2 linked regions of the Homo sapiens genome follow. The protein of the gene in region 2 interacts with the protein of the main gene of each other region in a biochemical or structural test. Each region holds a gene or a part of one and is shown on either strand. Other genes may lie near its edges.

Evidence for each region. The genes of interacting proteins can lie anywhere in the genome.
Region 1: of the proteins of FAM20C (region 2) and IRF3, one has a biochemical effect on the other in vitro, tested with the Homo sapiens proteins (one large-scale study listed by IntAct).

The regions. Positions count from the first base shown.
Region 1 is NC_000019.10:49,659,251-49,662,999, reverse strand, and holds the end of IRF3 (interferon regulatory factor 3), read left to right. Parts: intron 1-382; coding exon 383-575; intron 576-671; coding exon 672-1,052; exon of another isoform or gene 1,053-1,550; intron 1,551-2,155; coding exon of another isoform or gene 2,156-2,171; coding exon 2,172-2,287; intron 2,288-3,166; coding exon 3,167-3,352; coding exon of another isoform or gene 3,353-3,411; 3' UTR 3,412-3,428; downstream 3,429-3,749.
Region 2 is NC_000007.14:199,040-202,595, reverse strand, and holds part of FAM20C (extracellular serine/threonine protein kinase FAM20C precursor), read right to left. Parts: exon of another isoform or gene 1,913-3,556; intron 1-1,912. UniProt on the Homo sapiens protein: Golgi serine/threonine protein kinase that phosphorylates secretory pathway proteins within Ser-x-Glu/pSer motifs and plays a key role in biomineralization of bones and teeth.

The DNA of each region.
Region 1 (3,749 bases), on a different chromosome or scaffold from region 2:
GGCCCGAGCACACCTTCCCGGGATTTCATGGATTTCGATTCGCAGGGGGCTGTCAGCCTCTTGGGAACTGAAAAACTCCCTCACCTTGATCCTGCTGAGGCCCAAGCTGGGGGAGCATCCCCTCTGAAATTCTACCCAGCCTGCTTTGCCCAGGTCTTACCTGCATAGAGCCAGATCCTTGGGTTGGAATGGTAGCACCTGGCGTTCATTAGTGTTTGTTTGGCTGTTGATGCCATGGCTGGCTCTGTCCCCAGGCTGGAAGCCCCTTGAAGGCAGAGCTCAAGCCTGACCTCCCTGCGTTGCTGAGAACAGACCTGGTCCATATGAAGTCTCCAGAAAAGGATATGGAAATGCCTGATTCTCTTTTTTTGTTTCCCTCCAGGAAGACATTCTGGATGAGTTACTGGGTAACATGGTGTTGGCCCCACTCCCAGATCCGGGACCCCCAAGCCTGGCTGTAGCCCCTGAGCCCTGCCCTCAGCCCCTGCGGAGCCCCAGCTTGGACAATCCCACTCCCTTCCCAAACCTGGGGCCCTCTGAGAACCCACTGAAGCGGCTGTTGGTGCCGGGGGAAGGTGAGTGTCAGCTGCAGGCTGGGAGGGCTGAGGTCTGGGCGGCAGCCCCTGATTCTCAACCCCTCTCCCCTTCATGCCGCTGCTGCCGCTGCTCAGAGTGGGAGTTCGAGGTGACAGCCTTCTACCGGGGCCGCCAAGTCTTCCAGCAGACCATCTCCTGCCCGGAGGGCCTGCGGCTGGTGGGGTCCGAAGTGGGAGACAGGACGCTGCCTGGATGGCCAGTCACACTGCCAGACCCTGGCATGTCCCTGACAGACAGGGGAGTGATGAGCTACGTGAGGCATGTGCTGAGCTGCCTGGGTGGGGGACTGGCTCTCTGGCGGGCCGGGCAGTGGCTCTGGGCCCAGCGGCTGGGGCACTGCCACACATACTGGGCAGTGAGCGAGGAGCTGCTCCCCAACAGCGGGCATGGGCCTGATGGCGAGGTCCCCAAGGACAAGGAAGGAGGCGTGTTTGACCTGGGGCCCTTCATTGTAGGTGAGTGAGACAGGGGCTTCGACCTGGCCAGTACAAAGCAGCCTGCACAGTGGTTAACAACTCAGGATTGGCCGGGCACGGTGGCTCACGCCTGTAGTCCCAGCACTTTGGGAGGCTGAGGTGGGCAGATGACAAGTTCAGGAGTTCGAGACCAGCCTGGTCAACATAGTGAAACCCCATCTCTACTAAAGATACAAAAAAATAGTCGGGCGTGGTGGCACGTGCCTGTAATCCCAGCTACTCGGGAGGCTGAGGCAGGAGAATTGCTTGAACCCAGGAGGCGGAGATTGCAGTGAGCTGAGATCGCACCACTGCACTCTAGCCTGGTGACAGAGTAAGACTCCATCTCGAACAACAAAAAAAAAAGAACTCATGATTAGGACTGAATTCAGACGCTGGCTGCCCTTGGCCCGCTGTATAACCGAGGCAAAGGACTTTGCCCTGAGCCCGTGGAATCCAAGGATGGTCTCCTCTCTCTACCTGCCTGCCAGCGCTGGGGTGAGACACAGGCCCAGTACACAGAGCCTGCTCAGGGAATTAGCTGCCACTGTCATCATCATCGTAACTAATGATGGTGAACAGACCAATAGCAGGAAAGCTACATCCCTTAGGGTTTCGCTGTGCAGTGGCACTTTCTGCCATGATGGAAATGACAGTCACCTGCACTGTCCGGTGCAGCAGCCACTAGCCACAGGGGCCAAGCACTCAGGTGAGGCGAGTGCAACCAGGACGTGATTCGTTTTAATTGGTTACAATTTAAACTGAAATAACCTTACATGACTAATGGCTGCAATTGGACAATGCAGCCTCAGACAGGACTGAATGCCAACCAGCTTCTCCAGATTCACTGAGCATCCTTGGGAGCATGGGCCCCCTACTCTGGGCCTGTTATGAATGCTGAGGCTTGGGGGCTTGGGGGTGTGGCCTTCCAACAACCCCACCCTGATGGGAGGGAGGGAGGGAGGGAAGGAGGGGACTTTCCCCAAACAAGCAGTCCCCTGGTCGAGGCAGCAGAGGGCCTTAGGTCAGGGGAGGTGGTGGGGGTTATCATTCAAGTTTACGGGGAAGGGTGGGTAGAGGGTCCTCTTCTCATCCCTGACTAGGCTCCTGGGCCCCCAGATCTGATTACCTTCACGGAAGGAAGCGGACGCTCACCACGCTATGCCCTCTGGTTCTGTGTGGGGGAGTCATGGCCCCAGGACCAGCCGTGGACCAAGAGGCTCGTGATGGTCAAGGTGCCTGCAGACCTGAGTCCCTGGGGCTGAAAGGGGTGGCCTTACAGAGGGAAGAGGTTGCTCCCAGGAACTCCAACTCCCAGAGGGCCCTCTAAAAAACTGCAACTTCCAAGATCTCTGCAATAACCAGTTTTTCATCCCCGGGAGCTCCTTCCCATGGCCTCACCTGCAGAACCTGTTTTGAACTCTCTAAACCAGTGGCCCCCAAACTATTTGGCACCAGGGACCAGTCTCATGGAAGATAATATTTCCACGGACAGGGAGGTGTGGTTTCGGGATGAAACTGCTCCACTGCAGATCATCAGGCATTAGATTCTCTTAAGGAGCAGCCGATCCCTCACGTGCGCAGTTCGATAGAGTTTGTGCTCCTCTGAGAATCTAATGCTGCCGCTGATCTCACAGAAGGCAGAGCTCAGGCAGTAATATTCCCCCACCCGCTGCTCACATCCTGCTGTGCAACCTGGTCCCTAACAAGCCGTAGGGGGGTTGGGGACCCCTGCTCTAAACCATGTAGAAGCTGGTGGACTCAAGTTTTAGCTGCCATTGTGAGGCCATGGCTGTGGCTCCCAGGAGTCAAGATCACAGACTGCTCAGCCCTGACGTGTGTGTGTGTGTGTGTTTGTGTGTGTGTGTAAAACTACAACTCCCAGCAGCCCTAGGCCTATGGTTCAGTTACAGCAGGGGGTGTGTGTGTGTGTGTGTGTGTGTGTGTGTGTGTGTGTGTGTGTAAAACTACAACTCCCAGCAGCCCTAGGCCTATGGTTCATCCTAGGTTACAGCAGGGGCTGCAGGGAGTTGTAGTCCTCCAAGCCCTGACTCCTACCTTGGTGGACAGTGGCTGGGTGTTTTCCCTGACTCCTGTCCCCACTTCCCCTGCAGGTTGTGCCCACGTGCCTCAGGGCCTTGGTAGAAATGGCCCGGGTAGGGGGTGCCTCCTCCCTGGAGAATACTGTGGACCTGCACATTTCCAACAGCCACCCACTCTCCCTCACCTCCGACCAGTACAAGGCCTACCTGCAGGACTTGGTGGAGGGCATGGATTTCCAGGGCCCTGGGGAGAGCTGAGCCCTCGCTCCTCATGGTGTGCCTCCAACCCCCCTGTTCCCCACCACCTCAACCAATAAACTGGTTCCTGCTATGATCACTTGTGCGTGTCTGGTGTTGGGTGCCCTCTGACCCAATATGGTTGTTATTCCCGCTCAGGGTCTCAGTTTACCCATCTGTGCAGCTATATACAACTCAGGTGCTCAATGCATGAAGACCAAGCACTGCAGGGGGCAGCTGACACCTCCTCACTTCTGCCCAGGGACCTGGTGGGTGATGGCTGTCCCCGTGTTGTAGACCAAGACACAGGCTGGGAGAGGCGCAAAGGTCACAGAGTAGGAAACACAAAGACTAGCCAGAACCCAGGCCCCCTGCCTTGCCTATGAACAGTTTGGGCAAGTGGTCCTTCTCCTTCCAG
Region 2 (3,556 bases):
CCCATTCCCCAGTACAATCCCACCCAGCAGCTACCCGTCCTCTCTATGCACACGGGAAGATGTCCACAAGCCCCATTCCCCAGTGCAATCTCACCCAGCAGCCACCCATTCTCTCTATGCACATGGGAAGATATCCATAGCGCCCCCCCATTCCCCAGTACAATCCCACCCAGCAGTCACCCGTCCTCTCTATGCACACAGGAAGATGTCCACGGGCCCCATTCCCCAGTGCAATCTCACCCAGCAGTCACCCATTCTCTCTATGCACACTGGAAGATATCCATAGGGCCCCCCCATTCCCCAGTACAATCCCACCCAGCAGCCACCTGTCCTCTCTATGCACACGGGAAGATGTCCACAAGCCCCATTCCCCAGTGCAATCTCGCCCAGTGGCCACCCGTCCTCTCTATGCACATGGGAAGATGTCCACTGCCTTTCAAATAGGTTCTCCCCATCTGGAACGCTCTCCCCTTCCTGCCACCTGCCCTGAGCACCTCCCACCACTTAACCCACCAACTTTAGACCAAAGGTGACAGTCTGCTTCTTCCCCGGCCTCGCTGAAGAATCCTATCGCCCGGATATCCGTCAGTATACAGGACTCATTCCTATTGATTCATCATTATTAATCTACGTCACTAGTTAACATGGCTAGTTAATGTGATTAACGTGCACTAGTTACACAAGTTAACATGCACGAACAGAGTGCCCTGTGCCTTCATTATTTCATGTTGCTGTCAGCACTAAGAGTTCGGGGCCACACAGACCCTCGGACGCCACTGGGTTTTGCCCACAGTCTCTCCCCGGGTCACAGCACGAGACAGAGGCGATGTTCGTATGCAGTTGCCTCCTCAGAAGGACTCCAAGAGATGCTGGCATTTCTTATGAAATAAGCGTCTTACATAGAAAGATGGCTGCTGTCACAGAAATACTAATGGACTTTGGTGCCAGGCCCCAATCGGTGTGGCCTTAGGCAAGCCACATAACCCCAGACAGCTCCGGCAACCCACTGGGAAGCTCTAGAAGGAAGAACCCAGAGCAGGTCTGGAGAGACAGGGAGAGACGGCCCTGAAAGAGAGAGGTGTGTGGCCCGGGCCTGGGGGTCCCAACACCCCGCAGGGTGCTCATGGGGATGGAGACTGGGTGCAGCCACCACTCATCCTTGGTTTCTCGTGGGAGCAGGAACCCTTTCTAACAACAACCCCAACCTGACTTTAAATTAACCAGTTCCACCTCCTACAGACCTGTGGACCACAGAAACACATCCAGGTGTGAGATGCTGCCGTCAGCGTGGGCCCCCATGTTGCCGCCTTTGGCCCTGGTCATCTCGTCCGTCAAGAGGGCCAGCGTCTGTCCTTGGGGGTCACGGTCAGGCGGTCCCCCTGCTCTTCACAGCCACTGTCTGGCCTCAAGGGTCAGTTATTCCTGAAGACGAATGGGGACAGCTGTGTGTGCTGGAAGTAGGGCCTCACCCAAAGAGGGCTCAGATGTGGAGAATGTGACACCGGGAGAGCTCAGGTCACCCTGTTCTTCCCACCGCACACATCTCCAAGCCAGAGAGGTCTGCTCGGTGTCCCAGACCCCGGGTGCCCACACCCAGGCTCATATACCCATTCACCCTGGGCACCGAGGGACCTGGTTTTGAGGAAAAGGACATAGTTGGCCAGCAGTGGGCACCCTGGGGCTGGCATCAAGGAGGCTAGAACTGTGGGAACCTACTGCGAGGTAAGGGGCTGGAAGAGCTGGGAGCCTGCACCTGCTCTGGACCTGGATCTGCCAGTCCTCGACTCTCCTGGAGGCCTCAAGTGACAGGCAAGGCCCCATCAGCACTGCCCAAAGTCCCGTCCATCACACACCACCCTCAGGACACTTTCGCCAGAACCGCCTCCACCCCAGACTGTTATTTATTCCACGATTTTCTTCAAGGCCCCTTTTATTTTGAAAGATCTGTTTTTTAAAAGAAAACTGCAGCCTTGCCCCAGTGGGGACCATGTCTGCATCAGAAGGAAAGTCGGCAGGTGCGCATCGGGGCACACTCCTGCAGCTAGGGGGCTGCTGTCTCTGCTCAGCACGGGGAGGCCGGTGCCTGGGTGGCCCCAGGCCTCAGCAGCATGAGCTTTTGCTCCTCACCTTCCACCAGACGGCTGGGAAGGGAGTTGAGTGCGGACTGAGCTATTTGCCGCCTCCTCCAGGCTCCACTTGAAATCGTCCTTTGCAGGTGGTCATTGTCCTTCTTTCAGGATAACCCAAGGTCCCCCAGCCCTGGGGCCATGGGCGTCCAGCTAATTGGGCATCTTCCCTTTTCTCTCTCTAGGCCGGCCGAGCGAGGCCCTGGGACCGTGACCTGCAGGGGCAGTTGCCACCTGGGGTGGGTGGGAGGGGGAACAGTGGCCTTTCTGGAGCTGGCGCTGCCTTCCAAGGAGCCCTGCTCCCAAGGAACAGACACGGTGGCTGTGCCCTCCCAGGTACCTGCAGGCAGCTCCCTCTCGTGGGCTGACCCAGCGGAAGCCCTTTGTTCCTTGAAGCTCACCCGCTGGTTAGTCCTGGATTCTAGCTGGACTCATTCTTCCCCTTTTGGCAGATCAATCAGTGTCAAGAACTTTGGTCCTGCAGAGTCATTTTTCTTTGTTCAGGCATGTTCTCCCAACCACAGTCTTTGTCCCAATCTGGATGGAGCAATTATGAAGTCTGTATTTCAGTCCAGAAGCTGCCCGAATCCTCACATGCCAGTGGGATGTCATTCATTCTTTGCATCCATAATTGTGCATGATAGAAATTTAATTATCGCCAGCCCCAGCCCAAGGCACTGCATGCCCGATTTCAAGCTGAATAGAGGTAGATAATATCCCAAGACTCTTTAAAGGTGGCAATGGCCGGTTACCAGGCAGCCAGGAGCCCAGCTATAAATAAACCTCCGCTGGCCCTAACCAGCTGTGCTGTAGACCACGTGGCGCTCCATGAATTGGATTGGGTGGTTCTGAGCAGGAGAGATTTAATGGAACCGTTCCGAGGGAAGGCTTTGGAGACTCGCAGGCATCGTTCTCCATTACAACAATATTTCTGGGCTCACGTTTAATAGTAAGATGAATGACTTGAGATTAAAGTGAGCACCCAGGGGCCGGACAGCTGAGGGGACAGAACTCAGAGCCTGGAGCACGCAGGTGCTAATCTCGGACAAGCCTCCTGCCCTAAGAGCCTTGGTTTCCCTCGCTGTGGAGCGGTGGTTGGAAGGCAGGGCTGGCCTTTGAAGGCTACCCCTGTTCTTGGTTGCAGGACCTGTCTAGGGGCACCAGGCTCTAAACCTGCCTGATTGGCTTGGCCACGCCAAGGGCCTAGCCAGAGGCTGCTATCTCAAGCAGCTGGGTCTTCACCCAGATCCTCCAACTGGAAGTTCGTACTCAGAAGGGCCCTCGGAACAGCCGTGGCTGAGTCAGGCCAGCCAGGCAGCAGCAAGCGGGGTCAGCAAGCAGGTCAGCCCCCTTCTAGGACAGATCACATCCTCCTGGCCTAGGCCAGCCCTCTTGTGCCGTTCCCTGCAGACCAGGAGACCTGGACCTGG